Linked DNA regions of Homo sapiens: regions 1, 2, 3 and 4 are each linked to region 5. Evidence: fine-mapped expression QTL. A gene starts in region 5. Each other region holds a variant in brackets. All regions are shown on one strand. Distances are between the middles of the regions.

What was found. PIP is the estimated chance that this variant, and not a neighbour inherited with it, causes the effect. A credible set is the group of variants that fine-mapping cannot tell apart.
Region 1: its variant is fine-mapped to the expression of NECAB2 in blood mononuclear cells (TOPMed, PIP above 0.99).
Region 2: its variant is the best candidate, but not a certain one, in a credible set for the expression of NECAB2 in whole blood (INTERVAL, PIP 0.66).
Region 3: its variant is the best candidate, but not a certain one, in a credible set for the expression of NECAB2 in left ventricle (GTEx, PIP 0.67).
Region 4: its variant is the best candidate, but not a certain one, in a credible set for the expression of NECAB2 in sigmoid colon (GTEx, PIP 0.56).

Annotation. Positions count from the first base shown.
Region 1 is chr16:83,989,575-83,993,695 of GRCh38, reverse strand. NECAB2 (N-terminal EF-hand calcium binding protein 2) reads right to left here. Exons shown (of 13, transcript NM_019065.3): 6 at 3,066-3,202. Among named protein-coding and RNA genes, the nearest start is that of NECAB2, 23 kb to the right of the region's middle. The variant CCCA/A (reference allele first, on the strand shown) is at 1,573.
Region 2 is chr16:83,999,100-84,003,220 of GRCh38, reverse strand. NECAB2 (N-terminal EF-hand calcium binding protein 2) reads right to left here. Exons shown (of 13, transcript NM_019065.3): 11 at 2,420-2,497; 12 at 1,305-1,396; 13 at 445-903. The coding sequence ends at 875. Among named protein-coding and RNA genes, the nearest start is that of NECAB2, 33 kb to the right of the region's middle. RefSeq lists an enhancer at 115-897. The variant C/A (reference allele first, on the strand shown) is at 2,326.
Region 3 is chr16:84,046,787-84,050,907 of GRCh38, reverse strand. No RefSeq gene overlaps it. Among named protein-coding and RNA genes, the nearest start is that of SLC38A8, 6.1 kb to the right of the region's middle. RefSeq lists an enhancer at 1,481-2,365. The variant A/G (reference allele first, on the strand shown) is at 2,285.
Region 4 is chr16:84,008,796-84,012,878 of GRCh38, reverse strand. SLC38A8 (solute carrier family 38 member 8) reads left to right here. Exons shown (of 11, transcript NM_001080442.3): 11 at 3,002-3,212. The coding sequence ends at 3,095. Among named protein-coding and RNA genes, the nearest start is that of SLC38A8, 32 kb to the left of the region's middle. The variant G/T (reference allele first, on the strand shown) is at 1,918.
Region 5 is chr16:83,966,590-83,970,710 of GRCh38, reverse strand. It overlaps NECAB2 (N-terminal EF-hand calcium binding protein 2), which reads right to left and starts at 2,467. Exons shown (of 13, transcript NM_019065.3): 1 at 1,862-2,467. The coding sequence starts at 2,062. RefSeq lists a silencer at 2,402-2,591.

The sequences.
Region 1 (4,121 bases), 23 kb before region 5:
GCACAGCTAGCCACAGGCAGAGGCAGACACACACACACACACACACACACACACACACACACACACACACACACAGCTCACCTTGCACTGTGTCCAGCACATAGTAGGGACTCAAAAATGCTCAATGAATGACCAAATCCTCCCATGCAAAAGGATGCTGAAAAGCTCCTGGCAGACATACAGAAACACAGACACTCCCCCAGAAGACACACAGAGTGCCCTGTGCACGGCCCCAACACCCGCTTGGTCTCTGTGCATCGCGGTCTTGGTGCATTCTGGAATTTGTCTCTTGTGAACCTTGAACACTCCGCCAGGCTCTCCCCCTTGCGGAGGGAGCAAACTCGACTCCCGCCTTGGGAGGGGAGAGGCTGGCAGAGTCTTTATGGTGTCAATCATGGCTTCTCTATAAACCAGCAGGAAATTAAATGTATCCCTCAGACCATGACGGGTTGCTCAGGGCTCCCGGGTGGTGGGGTCTGAGCCAGTAGCCTGTGCTAGAGGTGACATCCTGGGAGACTGTCCTGGGGCTGGGAAACAGGATAGTCCTCAGGGACCCACAGCCTAGAGCCAAACTAGCTGAGATTTGGGGAAGTTCGAGGGAGGGGCATGTGTGGAACAGAGGTATCACGACAAGCTGCCCCGTCTGACAACATCCCCAAGTAAGGTCCCCACCATGGGGGCAGGTGGGTGTAACTGCTGACGCGTGATGGAGCTGACCCAGTGTGGGAAGTCTGCCCTGAAAACTGCGCAGCCATACTATCTGTTCTGCGGCAGGAGAAAAACAGCAAGTTTTTCATCAAGATAGTAACAGGAAAACCCAGGAAATCTAAGTGTCAGCTTTTTTCACAGCGATGGCTGCTAATTCTGGGGCACCCAAGAATCACAAGACTGACCACATGTGCAGAGTTCTGGGCTCCAGTCCAGGGATTCTAGCCAGTGAGTATGGCCAGGAGCCCAGGAATGTGTATTTTAATTTTCCCAGGTGATTCAGCGCAAATGCTCAGATCAAACTCATTTGGGAAACAGTGTCTCAGAGTTACCTTCACAATCATGTCTGATCAGGACCAGCTCTTCAACTACGAAGAAACACACGATCAAACCCCAGTCCCCCAGCAAACCAATATCCTGGTCCTGAGGTACCTCTCTGCCTGGAAAATTAAGGGCTCAATCGAGCTTGGGTGCCGACACCTGGCTGTTTCCCTCATCTGTTTGCATTTTCTCTTTTTCTTCTGTGTCAAGCACATCAGCTGTTCTGGGAAGAACTGAGCAAAGAAGGGTTTTTCTCAATTTGAAACAGCAAATGGAGGTGGGCGGGGGGACGGGTGCTCGTGTTCCCCGGGAGATGGGACTGCTGAGCCACGAGAATGTCGCTCCTCTCTAAATACCAGGTCACACCCCTAACACAGCAGCCACCACCTAGGATGGGACCCCAGATGCATTCCCATGGTTCCAAGCACACAAACAAGGCCTAACACAAGACCAGAAAGAAACACTCCTCTTTCACGTCTCTTTCAGTCCTCCTGAGAAACTCTCAACTTGCTACTACTGTCTTCAACACCTCTCTGATTTCCC[CCCA/A]GTCTCTCTTTTTAACAGAGAGGTGGCAAGCCTCAGGATTCAAGCTGGATCGTAAACAATGACAGGTGCTTATTTTTACAGTTACTTCACTTACGGCATGTGATGCCGAGAGTGCAGTTATAACCATATGCCATTTCCTAAACTGCTTTCTAATTTTCAAAAGTGGGCTGGGGTGTGGTGGCTCCTGCCTGTAATCCCAGCCCTTTGGAAGACTGAGACAGCAGGATTGCTGAGACCAGGAGTTTGAGAACAGCCTGGCCAACATGGCGAGACCCCGTCTCTACAAAAAAAAAAAAAAAAAAAATAGCTGGGTGTGGGTGGGACTACATGCCTGTAGTCCCAGCTCCTTGGGAGGCTGAGGTGGGAGAATTGCTTGAACCTGAGTTGGAGATTGCAGTGAGCCACAATGGTGCCACTGTACTCCAGCCTGGGGGACACAGCAAGATTCTGTGTCAATAAATAAAATAAGGCCGGGCTCCATGGCTCAAGCCTGCAATCCCAGCACCTGGAGGCTGAGGCGGGTGGATCACCCTAAAGACCAGCCTGGCCAACATGGTGAAACCCCATCTCTACTAAAAATACAAAAATTAGCTGGGTGTGCTGGTGGGCATCTGTAATCCCAGCTACTAGGGAGGCTGAGGCAGGAGAATCGCTTGAACCTGGGAGGCGGACGTTGCAGTGAGCTGAGATCTCGCCACTGCACTCCAGCCTGGGTGACAGAGCAAGACTCGATCTCAAAAAAAAAAAAAAAAGAAAAGAAAAGAAAAGGAAATAGAAAAAGAAAAAAGAACGAATGAGAGAAAGAGAGAAAGAAAGAGAGAGAGAGAAAGAGAAAATAGGCTAGCTGTGGTGGCTCACACCTTTCATCCCAGCACTTTGGGAGGCTAAGGCAGGTGGATCACGTGAGGCCAGGAGTTCAAGACCAGCCTGGCCAACATGACAAAACCCCGTCTCTACTAAAAATACAAAAATCAGCCAGGCATGGTGTTACACACCTGCAGTCCCAGCCACTCAGGAGGCTGAGGCATGAGAATTGCTTGAACCCAGGGAGGGAGAGGTTGTAGTGAGCCAAAATCACGCCACTGCACTCCTGGGCGACAGAGCGACACTTTTTGTCTAAAACAAAAAAATAAATAAATAAATAAAACGTGGGCCAAACAACAGAATAGTTCTGCATAAACAATTAGCATGTGGATGCAGCAAAACAAATTAGAGTCTGGGAAATGGTGTCTTCACTGTATTAATAAATATGTACACCAGGCATTCTCCTGAGCATTTACTATCTCATTCAATCCTTGCAATGGCTGAGATTTTAGGTATATAATTGTGCCTATATTACATAATGGAGCACCAAAGGCACAAAGAGCTGTGGCAACTTGCCCAAGGTCACCCAGCTCTTAGGTACACAGACATCCCCACCAAGCAGCAGGTGGGCACGTGCGCGTGCACGGCATACCCCCATGGGACCCTGCAGGGTCTCAGAGACTCACCGGAGCTGGCTGGTCTGTTCCTCGATGGCCTCCACCGCACTCTCCACTGAGCTCAGCAGCGACTGGATCTGATTGGCCGTCTCCTTCAGGAGGAAGCGGGTCACAAACTGGTCCACGTTGCTCCCACCCTCATATACCTGTGGAAGGAAGAGAAGAGGCACTGAGGGGAAAGGGGTGGGAGGGAAATTGGAGGTGGGGTCTAGCACAGGAGTTGGGGGAAAGCTGGTGCTGGTGAATTTGCTTTGCAAAGGGAAGGGAGGACCCCACGGCCTCCTGGGGTCCAGTCTTAGAGGCTGTAGCATTTCCAACGCAGAGGCTAGAGGTTTAGAGACCAAATTTGAACCCTGGCTTCACCACTTACTAGCTCTGTGACCTCCCAGAGTATAATGGGGTCACTGAAGCATCTATCTTACAAGGTTGTAGCGAAGATTAAACAGCAACATGCGTGTACAATGCTCTGCACAGGGCCTGCCACACAGCAAAGACTCAATCAACAGTAGGTGCTACAATATAGATGACGGTGATGGTGGCAGTGATAGTGACTGGTAGTTTTGTTGTTGCTGTGACAAGGATAATGATCAGGCAAGAAGAATCCACGACCTTCCCTCCCTCCTTCCTCCTGCAAGGAGGATTCCTAGGGCTCCTGGATCTCCAGGCTGCTACTAAGGAAAATGACAAAACGGAATCAAAAGCAGCTGAAGGGAGGAAAGTGCCCGGGGCTTAGTAATCAAAAGGAGGTGGCCAGAGAGGAGCCTGGGGGGAAATCAGAGAGGGAGTCTTAGCGGAACTCTGGGGAAAAGACGAAAAAGAAAGTTTTTTCCAAGTTTTGCTCTGTGGTGTGGAACAGAATTTCCACCTCTGTCCTGAGATTCTGCAAGGACATTTCTCAAGGCTTTTGGATCCAGTGGAGATGCTTTGGGCTGCAAAGACTTTACAGCAGAAGGGAGAAAGCTCTGCTTACCCACGTCGCTCAAGGACGGGATGATGAAAATGATGCTGTGTTGGGGGATCTTGGGTCTCCCAAACCCTGCCCTGCTCTCCTGGCCTCCTCTGCCA
Region 2 (4,121 bases), 33 kb before region 5:
AACCATGTGATTTATGGTGGGGTGTTGAGCCATGAGGTGTCAGCGTGTATGCGTCACCGAACCCCAGTAAGACTCAGGACTGCATCCCTGATTGGTGATGCTCTATCAGCATTGAAGCTGGGAGGGTTCAGTGCTATGGGCCTTTACTGGTAGCCCCGTGCCTGGCCCCCCACTCCGGGAGCCTCTTTCTTTGCTGGATTTTGTCTGTCTGTCTGTCATCTACCTACCTTGACCGTGACTTTGACAGTTGTGCCCAGTCCTTTGAATTACTGACCTGAGGGTAGGTGTGGTGCTGAGCTCCTGAATAGGCATGAGCCTAGTTCCCAAATACCGCATAGAGTGACCACCACCATTTCATGGTTCAGAAAACTGAGGCTGGGAGCACTTGAAGGGTCCCTGGCCCCCTGCTGTTGTCAACCAGGAAACAGACACAGAGCACACAGCTCTTCCCAACCAGGGTTTATTTGGCGCCTGGGCACAGTGGTGGCTACCTGGCTAGGTTGGGCACTACAGGGGCATGACTCCTACTAGGTAGAAGAATGTCACCGAAGAGGGCAGGGTGTGGTCAGTGTGGGTCATGCGTGGCCATGTGAGGGGTAGGGGAGAGGCCAGGACCAGGAGGCAGGGGTGCTGGCTCCAGGAAGCCGCCCCCTTCAACCTTGGGCTTCACCAGGACCTGGCAGCACAGACACTGCTCTGCCTTCTCAGGTGGGGGCAGGGGCGGCCTCCTTCACTTAACAACAGGGAAACACCTTCTTGTGGAGGATGGATTGAAAAGAAGCTTCTGCACCAAAGTGTCTGTCTAGAAAAAAACGGGATTTCCTTCACAAGAAGAAGGGGCTGGTGGGCTCCTCCACGGGCCTCTGGGAGGCTGTCAGTCCCGTCCCACCGTGCACCAAGCAGCTAAAAGGAGAGAGACACGTTAGAGGGAAGGAGTGCGAATGTGGGCAGCCTCGTAGCTGGTGGTGGTCGTCTTGAATGACAGGTCGGGGGATGGCTTTGAGTCCTTGTGTGACACACAGGTCCTTGCTGGTCACCCAGGTGCAAACCACACACCTGGGAAGGGAAATTCAGTCTGGCTGGAAGTAGGGGGCCGTGGAGGGGGTGCTCTGGTGCAAGCTCTGGCAGGCATACCTGTATGTGGGGCCACCTCAGGGCTGGCTCTGAGCCTGGCATTGGTGGCAGGAGCTGACAGTGGGCCCACAGCAAGCAGGCAAGTCCCCGGGAGATATGGGGCAGCCTCTAGGCTCTTGCCCTTCTCTCCAGTCAGGTGGCCACTGCAGTTCCAGGCCTTTGCCCCCTACCTGGCACCAAGATCCTGGAGAGGGCCTCAGGCTGGCTCAGTGTGTCCACCTTGACGTGCCGGAACGCCTTACACAGGGGGCTCTGCAGGTGCCTGTGACGCAGGGACATGTGTGAGTCAGGGGTGGCAGGAGTGGAGCTCCGCGTGTGGCTCCCCTGTTAATCCTAGCTCTAGCCCAAAATGGGGAGCTTATCAATAAGCACGGGGGGTCTTTGGACTCAGAGCCTTTGTGGGAAGGTGAGGGGGTGCCCAGGGAGGCTGACTCTGGGGTGGGCAGTGAGCTTCTCTTTTTCCCTGTGAGCTATAAATGGGCAGCGGGATCCCCCCACTCATTGCACAGAGCCTCTACCTCCCCCTTTACCCTAGCAGGAGGAGTGGGGCCATCCTCTGCCTGGGACCCATGACAACACAGAAGCTGCGAAGGCTTTTAGTCCCTCGTTTTATGAGTCACTGAAGTACGGACAGGGAGGGGACACTCTCACTTCTCATGACCGCCCCTGTTCCCACTGGGGTCCTGAGTTTGTCAGCAAACCGTGAGTGTTTACCAGGGAAGCAGGAGATGGGGGCATGGGCTACCCCTAGGCCCCGCTTCCTGCCTGTGGGGTCTGGCGCATCAGCAATAGTCTCCACCCTCTCCCAGATGTGTGCTGAGCAGAGGACAAAGGCCTAAGGCCCATCAGAGCTGCTGACACCCTACCCCATCTCCGTCCCTCGTACCGGGCACTCAGCTGGAGGGGAGGTTAGTCGCTGGAACAATTGATCACATGGGGACTGAGTCACCTTCTAGGTTAGGCCCTCAACTCTACAGGGTGGTAAAGAAGGCAGTGCCTCGGCCCCCAGGGCTGTTCCAGGAGGACAAGGTGCTCTAGGGGCACAGAAGCAACCCTGGGGAAAGCAGGAAAGCCCAGCTGAGTGTGGTGGGGGCTCTCACTACCCACCAAGAGCTCCTGCCTCCACCAGGGTTTACTGACGCAAGCATGCCAGCGGGTAGATGCCTCGGGAATCTGCTGACTGGACTCGGC[C/A]TTACCCTCCCCTCCAAGGATGCCTGGCTCCAGGAAGACAGCCCCCCCACTTCCCTCTGTCTCCCTCACCTGCTGTGGGGACCCAGCATCTCACCTCTTCCACGCCTCCTCTGTCTCCCAGAACTCATAGATGACAAAGGTGAAGCCATCTGAGAGCCTCACGGCAGTGATGCTGCAACAGGAGATGGTCGGGGGGAGGAGGCTGGAGCTCAACCAAGGCCACCTCAGTGCTGTTCCCCTGGGGTGGCCTGAGACCCACCACTATACACAACGGCTGCCTTCAATGTTTCTTCCTGTCTTGACCTCCATCGAGACTCGACAGGGTGACCCCAGCACAGGGAATAAGGCCTGGCTTCTTATAGTGGCCAACAGCTATTTATTAAATAGAATCAATGCAGTGTAGTTTTTCTTTTGAGATAGGGTCTCACTCTGTTGCCCAGGCTGGAGTGCAGTGGCACAATCACTTCAGCCTTCCAAGTAGCGGGGACTAGAGGAGTGCACCACTCGGCCTAATTCAAAAACTGTCCCAATAGAGATGGGGTCTTGCTATGTTCCCCATGCTGGTCTTTAACTCCTGGGCTCAGGCTGTCTTCTCACCTTGGCTTCCCAAAGTGCCAGGATTGCAAACTTCAGCCACTGTGCCCAGCTGAAATGTCATGTTAAAGTGTGAACATTTATTTAAACAAAACCAGGTGGCTGGATGTGATGGTTCACGCCTGTAATCGCAGAACTTTGGGAAGTCTTGAGGGGTCGAGGCAGGTGGATTACGTGAGGTCAGGAGTTCAAGACCAGCCTAGCCAACATGGCAAAACACTGTCTCTTTAAAAAAAAAAAAAATAAAACTTGCTGGGCCTGGTGGCACATCCCTGTAATCCCAGCGATGCAGGACACTGAGGCATGAGACTCATTTAAACCCTCTGGTGAGAGGTTGCAGTGAGCTGAGCTTCCACTACTACACACTCACTCCTGCCTGGACAATAAAGCAAGATTTGGTCTCAAAAAACCTTTAAAAATCAAAAAACCTTTAAAAATCAAAGCATCTTCCCTCTTCTTCCTTCTACTTGTCCTCTCATTTAATCCTTGCAACACCCCCACTGCACTGTACCTGACCTGACCAAAGGAGGCTGAGGGGAGGGGGTGCTGGGCCACAGAGGAAGGGGCTGCAGGCAAGTCCCCCATTGCTCTATGGGACCCAGGGGCCCGCACTCACGTCATTTTAAAGGTGCTGATAGTCTATGCCGCCCCAGAATCCTCTCTGCAAGTGCACTACAATGAGGAAGCCCCAAGTGACCATAAAGCGGGGGCCAAAAGCTGGGGAGGAGGGGCTACAGTGCTCAGCCTAGAGGAAGGGGCCGGGCTGGATTCCATCTTGGGGTGGACACACCTCCGTGCAGCTTTAGGTGCACCATGCCTGGGAAGTAGAATCTCACCTGGCTCTCCAGGCTTGCCGTCTCCAACTCGACAAACCAGAGCCTCTACGTCCACCGTGCCTCCTCTCCACAGCGCATCGGGGTGGCCCTACTTCACCCTGGAGCCTCCCACTTATTCACGTAATGGAAAAAGATCAAGTCTGGCCCCTGCTCCTGTGCAGTCTGTCCTCCTGGAGTGGAGTGGGTCCTGCCCCCCCATCCTGGCTACTTACTCAAGAATGGCCCCTCGTGGCCACGCCGAGTCTCGGGAACGGCCGCACTCCTGCCCAGGCTACTCCTCCCCTCGTGCTACAGGTCAGGCTGTTGTCACTCAAGCCTCAGTGCACAGGGGGCCCAAGAAGACCCCTCTCAAAGACCCTGTGCTAG
Region 3 (4,121 bases), 80 kb before region 5:
GCCTTGCAGCTCTCCTTACCCACATGCGGCCTTGCAGCTCTCCTTACCCACATGCGGCCTTGCAGCTCTCCTTACCCACATGCGGGCCTTGCTGCTCTCCTTACCCACATGGGGCCTTGCCGCTCTCCTTACCCACATGGGGGTCTTGCAGCTGTCCTTACGCACATGCGGGCCTTGCAGCTCTCCTTACCCACATGGGGCCTTGCAGCTCTCCTTACCCACATGCGGCCTTGCAGCTCTCCTTACCCACATGCGGGCCTTGCATGCTGTTGGCTCTGGAGCCTCTCGTCTCACAGGTCTCTACAGGTGCAGGCCACTCACCGTCTGGTGGTCAGGACCATAAAGGACAGGGTTATGTTAAAGGTTTTGCCTCAAACCAGAAGGCGAGGACCCTTTCTGTCCAGTTGCCGGAATGATGTCATGAGGAACTGTGTGCCCAGGCACGCTGTGCTAGTTACAACATGTGTTTTTGTTTCATTCCCCACACACTGTAAGGTGGGCATCACTGGGCCCATCACACAGGTGAAACAGAAGCCCGGGAATCACTCGTCCCCTTGCCCAGTCATACAACTAGTAGCCAAGGCAGAATTTGAACTCATGTTGCCCTCAGTCCCAAAACCTGTGTACTTAACCCTTGTTCTCTCCTGCTGGTGTCTGTGTGATGTCCCATGTCTGTCTGTCTCTCTCTAAAGGGACAGTGACACACCAGGAGGATACCCAGATGCTGGGGGGCCTTGGGACAGAGTCTGGGAGGATTGAGTGAAGGAGCAGGTGAGGGTGAGCCTGGAGAGAGAACGCCCTGGTGGAGAGTTTATGTAGAAAGGGGATTAGGTCTCCGGGAGGAACCGGATCCATGTGGTCTGCTGAGATGGCTGAGTCTGGCATTCAGATGTGCCACCCAACAGAAGAGGCCCTGGAGGGACGCCCCCTTTGCTGGGTGGCAGCCGTGGGATTCCGGGGTCTGCCTTGGAGGTCCTGGAGAGGATGTCGTGGCCCTGGCCCTAGACTCAAGCTGCCTGGGTCCAGTTCAGCCCGGCCACTCCTGCTGTGGGCCCTAGCCAGGGGCCTTCACTCCACCGACTGCTGTGTGTTTGGTACATGGTGTCACCCAGGCCATGTGCTTAGCCATGTGCCTGACAGCCAGCGCCGGTGTCAGCCATTACAGGGACACACGTGCCTGGAGGTTGAGGCCACGTTCTGTCACCTAGGCCCACTCGTGGTCCTGGGCTGGGCCAAACCCCCCTTCGAAAGGATTCCTTTTTGCCCCTGGCATAGGCTCTCATTGTCCTAGTGAACAGCTACATCTTTTTAACAAGCCAGAAAAGGCCAGCTGGCAGTGGCTCTGCCTGAAATCCCAAGACTGGCTGGCCGAAGCAGGAGGATCACTTGAGGCCAGCCTGGCCAAAGTAAGCAAGACTCTGTCTCTACAAAAAAATAACAAAAAACAAAAAAAAGACCAACCAGCCACAACCACAGATAACACCTGGGGTTCACAGGGGGCCTGGGGACCGTGAGAGGGGCCAGATGTCATCCTTTGCCCTGGCTCTCTCTAGAGACTCAGGCAGTGGCCCCGATTGCAGGAGCCTTTGAGATGAGATACAAATAGTGACTCCCCCTTTGGCCCCCTCCCCTGTATAGGACACTCAAGTCTAGATCTTTCTTTGCACACACACTTGTCTGTTCCGTGCAGAGCGTGCCCCACATATGATGGCTCCAAGGAGACCTCCCAGGAAAGCCACGCACAGTAGGTGAGCCTGGCCCACAGCGATGGTCCTGGGACCTGCTGAGCGGTCGTCTCTGTGCCTCAGGCCAATGGTTCATGGGCATGATCCCGCCCAGGGCTCTCGGAGCCATTTCTCAGGCGAAAACCCAGGTCTGGCCTGGGCCTGAGCTCTGAAGCCCTCACCGCCAGGCTGCCTGCCTCCCACGGCGGGCGGAGGGTGCTGCCTACTGGAAATAATGGGAGGGTTGACATAGATTTTGATTTCACAGGACACAAAATATAGAGTCAAGGATATGCAAAAGGGTTGTCTCCCATTTTATATACAGGTTAGATAGACATTTCTAGAGAAATATTGAAATTCTTCATTAAAAAAGTGGCTGGCACCACCGCCTTAATTGGATATTAACTCACGGAATAATGGTTTCATTTGCTGGTAACAAGAAGGCATTGCAGGTGAGTGTCCTAGAAATACAGATCCCTGGCCTCACCCCAGCTTGACTAGATCATCTGTTCCTTGGGAAGGGACTAGGAATCTCTTTTAAAAGCTCCCAAGAGCAAACA[A/G]CTGCTGGAACTGTGACCCAGCAGTCCCTAAGCCTATACGCAAGAGAACTGAAAACAAGGTGTTCAAACAAAAACCTCTGTGAAGTTCACACCTGCACTATTCACAGTAGCCAGAAGGCGGGGCCGGCCCACAGGTCTAGCAGTGATGGCCACATGGACAAAGGTGGCCTCTCCATGCCATTGAACACGGCCACAAAAAGAAACGAAGTTCTCACACATGCTCCCAAGTTGGGGAACCCCAGGAACATGCTGAGTAAAAGAAGCCAGACACAAAAGGCCATGTCATGTGTGATGAAGTCTCCACAGTAAACAAAGTTCACAAAAACAGGGAGTCGATTCGTGGTTGCCAGGAGCTAGGGGAAGGGATCTTCCTTTGGGGCTGTTGAAAATGTTCTGGAATTAGATAGTGGTGATACTGGCACAACATTGTGAGTACTTAAAGCCACTGGATTGCACACTTTAAAATGGTAAGCCCCAGAATGGAGTTTAAAAAAAGTGAATTTTATGTCATGTTAACTCTTAACACGCTCCCTCCACAGGAGATTCTTGTCAACAGGCGGCCCCCTTGGGAGCCCTGGCTTAGAACCTGGGAGAGGTTCTTGTGCCCTTCCGACTCCCAGTGTCAGTGTGAACCCAAGTGGTCAGAACCCCCTGGATGAAGACCCTGTGGGCTCAGCCCTGGCACCACGTCCTCCTCCCTGCCCTCTGCCCCCAGCCCTGTGTTGGCTGCTGACCACCCCCCGCAGCACCCCCAGTGTTTCCTCCATTGGACACAGTGGCAGGAGGAGAGTGAGCCTAAAGGATGCTTCCTTTCCCTCCCACAGTTCACCCCTTTACTGCTTTACCCAGAGCAGGTCTTCTGACTACAGCTCTGGAGAAGCAGCCCCCAGGCGGGGACCGCGGGATGTGACAAGGCCTGTGCCCTGTGGCTGTGTTCCTGAGGGATCCAGCCTCTGCTGCTGAGCCCAGGGGGAGCCCACCAGCCTGTCCTCTCAGAACTGCCCAAGGATCGGAATTCAGGATGCTGGTGTATGTGGGTCCTATTGCCACCTGGACAAACTACCACAAATTTAGTGGCTTAAAACATATATTGCGGTTCCAGAGGTTGGAAGTGCAAGTTCAGGCTCACTGGCCTAAAATCAAGGTGTTGGCAGGGCTGGTTCCTTCCTGAAGCCCTGGGTGAGAACCCATTTCCCTGCCTTTCCCAGCATCCGGTGGCCCCTCCTCCGTGTTCCACGCACACCCTTCTAGCCTCTGCTGCTGTCTCCACACCACTGTCTCCTCTCTGACCTCTGGCCCCTCCTGCATCCGTGTTAGAAGGACACTGATTACATATAGAGCACACCTGGATAGCTCAGGGTCCCCTCCCCACAAGGTCCCCGATCTCATCTGTGAAGCCCCTTTTGCCATGTGGGGTAACATACAAGGCCTGGAGGTTCCGATGAGGACATCTTTGAGGCCATCATTTCACCGACCACAAGCAGTTTCTCTATCCCTATGACATCCGTCTCCCATCCGAGGACTTTTGGTCCCTGGTAATTTCTGCAGGTGGGGCCCCTCCCACCATCTGAGAAGCTGGAGGCCGGCTCTGCTCCGACACACTGGGCTTGCTGCGCTGCTTACTAAGCAGCCTTCGTGGGCCAGGCCTAGGGCTGAGAGCTTCGGAGAAAGGAGGGGCTTCAGTCTCGGGGACAGCAGGGTCAGCGGGAGGCCCTAAGAACTGGGTGCTCTACTCTCACAGCACGGTAGACCCTCCTGGGGGAGCTTCGTAGAAATTCTGACTGCCCATAATCCCAGCACTTTGGGAGGCCGAGGCGGGCAGATCACCTGAGGTCTG
Region 4 (4,083 bases), 42 kb before region 5:
CCACAGGAAGAGAGTCTCTGTCTACCCAGTATGAGGGCATCTGAGCCAGGATAGGAGCCCGGGCCAGTAACACCGGGTCCTCCAAGGGCCTTCCCTTCCACTCTGAGGGTCTGTGGTTGGGATTTCATGTAGATTCCAGCCTCTGGAAGCACCCAGTGGTGCATCTGTACCCTCCTTTGTTACCTGGCTCGGACCCAGGGCAGGATCAGGGTGCAGGCTGGGTTAGAAAGGCCCCATGGCCGGCCAGACACCATCATCACAGCAGTGGGTCGCTGTTCCCAGGCTCCTCTGCTAGGCACTGAGCTAGGTCCTTTTACATGTTCACCTCCCCACCATACCCACATGTCTTCATCCTACAGCTGAGGAGGCGGGCCCGGATGCTAGTGAGGACAGAGCTAGGATGCAACCCAGGCCCCTGGCTCCCAGGCCCCATGCTAACCCACCTGCCTGGCATACAATGCTGTTGAGACCAGATAATTTGGATCTTTCCTTCATTTGACAAATATTTATCCCCGAGCGGACCTGTGGATCAGACACGACTGAGCCTCTGTACTTTGCCACTGAGCAGCTGAGTCTGACCCACGGAAGAGGACGATGTACACGTGAATGATGTGCGCTTCCTCAGCCGCCCCTGGGTAGTCTGGGGTTCTGGGTGACTCCCTCCCATCCCATAGATGGGGAAACTGAGGCTGAGGCAGGTAAAGAGATGATGTATTAGTTTTATGGGGTTATTGTAACAAATTACCATAAATTGGGGCATGGTGGGGAGGCTTAAAGCAACAGAAATGAATTTTTTCCCCAGTTCTGGAGCCAGGAGTGTGAAATCAAGGTGTTGGCAGGGCTGGACTCTCTGAAGGCGCCTCAGCTTCTGGTGGCCCCAGGTGCTCCTTGGCCTGTGGCTACATCACTCCAGTCTCTGCCTTTATCATTATTTAGCTTTCTCCCTGTGTCTCTGCGTCTCAGAAATCCCTCTGCTTTTATTTATTTTAGTTTTTGAGACAGAGTCTTGCTCTGTTGCTCCGGCTGGAGTGCAGTGGCGTAATTGTGGCTCACTACAGCCTCAACCCCCTGGGCTCAAGCAATCCTCCTGCCTCAGCCTCCTGAGTAGCTGGGACCACAGACGCCCACCATCACACCTGGCTGCCTTTCTTTTATAAGGATACCTACCATCAGATTAGGGTCCACCCTAAATCTAGGTTGTATCTTCTCTCAAGATCTTTTCCTTAATTACATCTGCAAAACCCAGTTTCCAGATAAGCTGGCAAGCACAGGTTCCAGGTAGACATGAATTTTGGGGGCCACCCTTCACCCCATCCCAGATAATGTTAAATGGCAGCAATCGTGAATTTGGGTGCCAGCTGTAGGTCTGTTCCCCTATACCCCCGGCCCTCTAGCCCCATTGAGCCCAAGCTTGGTTTTTGCAAAGGAGCAGGCCTGGCCCGGTTTCTTCTGGATTTGAGAGCAGTGTTTCTGGATGTTTCTAAACCTGCCTTGGGTATTGAACCAGCCTCCCAATGTCTGGTAACCCCCTAAGCCGCTCATTCCCTGGGATGCTTTTCGGAGTCTTCATGCTTTTTGTTTTGTTCCTTGATCTGAGCTCACAACAGTTTTTACTGATGAGCTTTCAAGATATTTTTATCGTTAAAACTGCTTTGGGTCCTTCTAATACATCAGCGCTGCTCCAGGAGTGCCACAGCCCACAGGCACATTAGCCTCACAGTCCCCGCACAGATGAATGGATGTTTATGGCGCTGAACAGCCGTGCTGAGATGCTGCTCGGTTAGAAATGTTCCTTCCATGACAACCCGGCCTTCTGGTCTTTGTTAATGGGGCCACAAATATCTCTGGTGGCCCTGCCATTTTGTGGGAATCTTGTTATCGCTCTGACCTCCTTGTCTACCCCATCTCTGGTTACAT[G/T]ACGAAGCTCACAAATGTGGCCTCGGTGGCTGCCAGTCCCAGCCACCTCTGCCTCCTGCGTCCTCGTCCCCTACCCCTCTGAGATCGTGTGTGACTTAGAGCTTGCGTCTTCTCCTTCATTTTCATGGGATTTCATCAGAGGCTGAGGAACAGAAAGGGAGGGTGGGGGGACTTTTCAAAGTAGTGTCTCCCTTCTCTCCATGTCTTTTTCTCTTTTTGAGATGGAGTCTTGCTCTGTCCTCCAGGCTGGAGTGCAGTGGTGCAATCTTGGCTCACTGCGACCTCTGCCTCCCGGGTTCAAGCAATTCTGCCTCAGCCTCCCACATAGCTGGGAATACAGGTGCCTGCCACCGTGCCTGGCTAATTTTTTATTTTTATTTTTAGTAGAGATGGGGTTTCACCATGTTGGCCAGGCTGGTCTTGAATTCATGACCTCAGGTGAATCCGCCTGCCTCAGCCTCCCAAAGTGCTGGGATTATAGGCTTGTGCCACCATGCCTGGCCCCCATGTCTTTTTATTTGATAAAATACTGGGGAGGAATGAGCTTATGACATAACAGGTGGGATCGGAGGGCTTTTAAAAACTGCTTGCGGCCAGCAACGGTGGCTTGCGCTTGTAATCCCAGTACTTTAGGAAGCTGAGGAGGGCGAATCACTTGAGGTCAGGAGTTCAAGACCAGCCTAGCAAACATGATGAAACTCCATCTCTACTAAAAATACAAAAATTGGCCTCGTGTCATCGTGTGTGTCTGTAGTCCCAGTTACTTGGGAGGCTGAGGCAGGAGAATTGCTTGAACCCGGGAGGTGGAGGCTGCAGTGAGCCGAGATCGTGCCACTGCACTCCAGCCTAGGCAACAGAATGAGACTCCACCTCAAAAAAAAAAAAAAAAAAAAATTGCCTGGGTACTTTGCTTCCCATTGTCTTGGAAACCCATCCCTACAGGTAACTGGAAATATTCTGAATTTTTCTTTTTTCCAAATTGATGACTCCATACTGGGCTCTACATAGTGAATTTTTTATGTGTGTGTGGCTTATTTGTGCAAAAATCCAGAAAAGCTCTGACATGGGTTTATTCACTTGGCAGGTGCTGCCTGGAGGTCTGGGGAGTGGTCTCTGTGCTGGTCGGCACCTTCATCTTTGGGCAGAGCACGGCGGCAGCGGTCTGGGAGATGTTCTGATGGGCAGCTAGTGCCGGGCAGGAAGGGGCCCTCCGGGGGCTGACCCTACGTGGCTGCTGTATGCAGCCAGGAGACCGATGCCATTTCTTTTCCTCATAAAGATGCTGGAGAGACTGATGCCTTCTGCCTCCTTGGGCTGCTCATGGGGCTATGCGGGTTCGAAGGGTTTCTGGTACAAAGGTGAGGAAAGTTCTTATGGCCGCTGTGATAAATGACCATAACCGCACTCTGGTGGCTTAAAACAACAGATGCTTGTTGCATCACAGTTCTGGAGGCCAGGAGTCTGAAATCACGTGTCATTAGGGCCATGCTCCCTCTGTGGGCTCTAGGGGAGGCTCCCTCCTGTCTTCCCAGTTCTAGGGGTGGCCGGCACTCCTTGGCTTGTGGCTGCCTCACTCCAGTGTCTGCTCTTGTCTTCATGTGACTCTCCCCTGTGTATCCTCTGTGTCCAAATCTCTCTCTTAAAAAGATACCCATCACTAAGTGAGCTCCTCCCACCTCCGTAAGTAGTGTGATCTCATCATAAGTTGCCTGCATCTTGTATTAATTAGGACCCACAAAGATGCAATTTCCAAATAAGGTTATGTTCACAGGTTCCGGGGGTTCAACCTCAACTGATGTTTCTGGGAGACAAGATTCAATCCATAAAAGGGAGCTAGGGGCTGAGGCCCAGATAATTGGCTTTGGAGTGTCAGGATCAAGGGTGTCAGGTAAGGATACTGCACAGCAATGGGAAGCCCAGAAGGGAGTGGGAGGAGGCATGGCTGGCGATGGTGATGGACTCAAATGGTCCTTTGGCCAGGGCGCAGGAAATGCCCGAATCCTGCCCTTGGCTGTGACAGGCCCAAGGAGGTGTATGCCCGGAACACGCCACACCGCCATGCACTTGGCCCATGCCCCGTGGAGGGTGGATGACTCCAAGGAAACTGTGCTTTCCCTCCCACCAGCTGGACTCAAAGAGCCTGGAAGCCAAGTGGACTGTTGGCTC
Region 5 (4,121 bases):
AGAGGCAGCAACATGTACACATTTCCCGACACCAGGGAGGGCTGCTGGGGCCAGGTCAGCCATGGAGGAGGAGGAGGTAATACTCACTCTGACCCTTCCACCCTCTGTCCTCGCCTTGGGGTAAAGGACAGATGCCCTCGCCCCCCATCCCTCCAGGCAACGAGAAAGGGGGCACCCTTGGTCATTTCTAGGCACCTGGGCGGTGAGACTGAAGCACAGCTATGGGAGGGCCTCTCAAACATCACCCCTCCTCCTGGCTGAACCTCAGATCCCCAAGCCCTCCTCAAAGATCCAGCCTGGGCACCCCGCAGCCCCGTTCCTGACTGGGCAAGGCTCCTCAAAACTGGGGTCCCTATCTGGGTGTCCCAGATCCCCCTTGAGGCCAGGCACCAGGTAGGTGCCGGCTCTGGGCAGGAATGCTGAACACATGAGTGACATGGCAGGGCTGACACCTGGTAATGTCAGCCAGCTCCAGGAGTCTGCATGAGCACCTCCCGCCCCACCCCCCGCTCATCACTCCTTTTGGCAGGTGAGGAGATGGAACCTCAGAGCCCCCACCCTGACTGGGCAGGGCTTCCATGCAGGGCAGCTTGGGGCTGCAGGGCTCTGCCCAGGACTTTCAGTGGGAGCTCTGCGGGGGTCCTGAGGAGGGGATGGTTTGGCTGCATGGGTGTGTCTCTGGCTGTGTGTGCGTGCGTAAGCGAGTGCGTGAGTGTGTGAATGTGTGCCTGCGAGTGTGGCACTCTAGAGCTCCCCCTGCTCTGGCCGGCCCTCCCAGCCCAGACCCCGGCCAAGGGTTCCAGGAGCAGGGAAGAGGAGAGAGGAAGGGAGGGAATCCCCCGACTCACAGGGATCCGCGATACACGCGTGTGCACATTCACACACACCCACCACTCTCCCAGAAATCCACCACACAGGCAGAGGCAGCCCCCAGCCCCACCCCAGCAGGACCCTCGCTGAAACACGCAGTCAACATCCCCAGAAGCCTCCTCCACCTCCTCCTAGCACTCTCTGCTGGGAGAAGTCCTCCTCCTCCGAGCCGCCCCCTGAAGATTCCTCCCTCCCGGGTGGGGCGGGTGGGAGGGTGAGGTGGGCTTCCCAGAGATGGGTGATTTGGGTCCCAGGGGAGTTAGGAGGGGTGAGGGGTGAGTCTGGTCCATGAAGAGGACCCAGCTCTCTGTAGGGTAGAGGGGTGTGGGGAAGGGAACAGAGGACTTGGAATGGAAGGGGGCGGGGTGGGGAAGACCAGAGGGGTACCAGCTCAGGGCTGATGGGCGATGGCTCTGGCTCAATGGAAAGGAGACGAGAAGACAGAAGGTGGGGAGGGGGCTTCACTTTTAAAGTGGCAGTAGCTGGGGCAAAGGGTCTTTGAGCGTGAGATGAACGGGGGCTCAGGGTCTAGGGCGAAGAGAGGTGGGCTAGAGGTAGGGGTTGTTAGGGGTCTCAGAAAAGTATCGCTCCGGACAGGATCCGGGATGGAGAGGAGGAGGCGGCTGGACGCGGCGAGGGGCTCCGGTCCCGCGGGGTAAAGGGTGGGGGTTTGGCTTGGACAAAACTAGGGGGACAGTGGCCGGGTCCGGGGGCTCACGGCTCCCCACTGTGGGCAGGCAGGGACTCCGAGAAGCGCCGGTGGAGGGGCGGAGGAGGGGGGTCTCCCGGTCCAGGGAGAGGACTGGGCTGGAGACCGGCCTGGACGTGGCGGGGCTGGGGGCTCCCGCTCCGGCACGCGGAGGGGCCGGGGGTCTCCTGCCCGGGTAGGGAGGGCCTCGCGGGTCGCGGCGTCGGGGTCCGCCCGAGGGGCGGAGGGGGCTCCGGGTCCCAGCGGAGGCCACGGCGGGGGTCCCGGCCGGCGCGTACTCACGTCCAGGATGACGGCGGTGCCCCCGCGCGGCGAGGCTGGGCCGGGGTCCGCGGGGGCGGCGGGGGCCAGCGACTCCCGGGGCTCGCCCATCCTGGCGCCCACCCAGCGCAGCAGCCCGCCCAGCGCCCGGCCCTGCTGCGGCGGCTCCCGGAGCAGCCTGTGCGCGCCGGCCCTGCACAGGCGCGCCGCCCGCTCGCACATCGCGCCGCGCCCGCCGCCGCCGCCCGGAAGCCCGCCGACCCCCGCCCAGCTGCGGCCCGCCCCCGCGCGACCCCCTCCCCGCGCTGCCCGCGCCGCCCCGCCCTCTCTCCCGCTGCCCCCGCGGCCGCGGACACCGCGGGGACTGGCCGGCGCCGGGGGGCGGGCCGGCCGGACCCCGAGCCACGTGCCCGCTCCCCGCCGCCCCCACCCCCGCCGGCCGGGCGCGGGGCCTGAGGACTGCCCGCCGGGGCGAGGGGCGCGGGCGCAGCCACAGAGGGGGCTACCCGGAGGGGAGGGGTATGTGGGGCCTGGGGGCGGGGCGGCGCCCCTGGGGCCTGCTCCCCAAAAGTCTCCTGCTCTCCCCGCTTCTAAAGTCCCCCCTCCCACTCGCGGCGCGCAGCAGAGGCCGAAGCGCGGGTGTCCAGCGAGCCCGGAGCGCCCTCTGCCGGCTCCAGCCCCGGGGAGCGGCGCCCACGCCCCGCGGCCCCGTCACGCCCGCGGGCGCCCATCCTTAACTCCCGCGGGCGTGCACGCCCCCTCAGGCCGCCCCCTTGGTTACAAAACGCCCAGAACCAGTCTTCACCCCAGAACATCTTTCCTTCATACTCCATCCACCCATCCATCTATCCACCCACCCACCTGTCCGTCCATCCATCCATCCATCCATCCACCTGCCTACCCGTCCATCAATCCATCTATACATCCATCCACCCATCCTCCCATCCATCCATCCGGCCGGCCGACTGTCCGTCCATCCATCCACCCACCCTCCCAACCATTCATCCATCCATCCATCCACCCACCCAGCATCCTCCCATCCATCCATCCATTCACCCACCCACTCATCCTCCCTCCCTGGCATCCATCCATCCACCCTCCATCCATCCATCCATCCACCCTCCCATCCATCCATCCATCCATCCATCCATCCATCCATCCATCCGTCCATCCATCTGCCCGCCCGCCCATCTGTCTGTCCATCCACCCACCCACCCTCCCATCTATCCATCTATCCACCCCCCTACCCTCTCATCCATCCATCCATCCACCCACCTACACACCCTCCCATCCATCCACCCACCATCCTTCCATCCATCCATCTATCCTCCCTCCCTCCCATCCATCCATCCATCCTCCCTCCCATCCATCCACCCACCCACCCACCCCCCTCCCTCCCATCCATCCATCCATCCATCCACCCACCCACCATCCTCCCATCCATCCAACCATCCTCTCATCTATCCATCTGTCCACCCACCCACCCATCCTCCCATCCATCCATCCACCCATCCATTTAAAAGATGAATTAAGGAGAACCCACTAGGTGCCAGGCAGGTGCCCAACCACGGAGTTCCAGCAATGGGCAAAACAGATGGTGTACTTGGTCTCCCAGAGCTCCTGGAGCTTACATCCAAGTGGGCAGAGCCAAACACTGAAATGATTCCACAAACAAATGAACAATTAAAACTGAACTGCTGGAAGGGTGTGGTGGCTCATGCCTGTGATACCAACACTTTGGGGAGCCAAAGAGGGCGGATCACTTGAGGTCAGGAGTTCAAGACCAGCCTGGCCAACATGGTGAAACCCCGTCTCTATTAAAAATACAATAACTAGCTGGGCGAGGTGGCAGTCACCTGTAATCCCAGCTACTTGGGAGGCTGAGACAGGAGAATCATTTCAACCCAGAAGCAGAGGTTGTAGTGAACCAAGCGCCACAGCACTCCAGCCTGGGTGACAAAATGAGACTCTGTCTCAAAAAAAAGAAAAAAAAACTGCACTGCTATGAAAAGGTAGCACCTTAGACCATGAAAGGAGTATTTGCTGTGACGGCAGTGGAGGGGTTTGTGTCAGAAGAGGCTTCCTAGAGGAAGTGATTCTTATGCTGAGACATCCCAAGGAAAAGGAGTTAAAGAAAGGCGGGAAACTGTCCTGGGCTGGGGACTCTCTGTGCAAAGGCCTTGGGGCAGGCAGAGACCTGGCCAGCAGGAGGGACTGAAAGGAGGCCGCATGGCAGAACAGAGAGGAGGGAGGCCTGGGACAGGCTGCGGAGGGGGCGGGG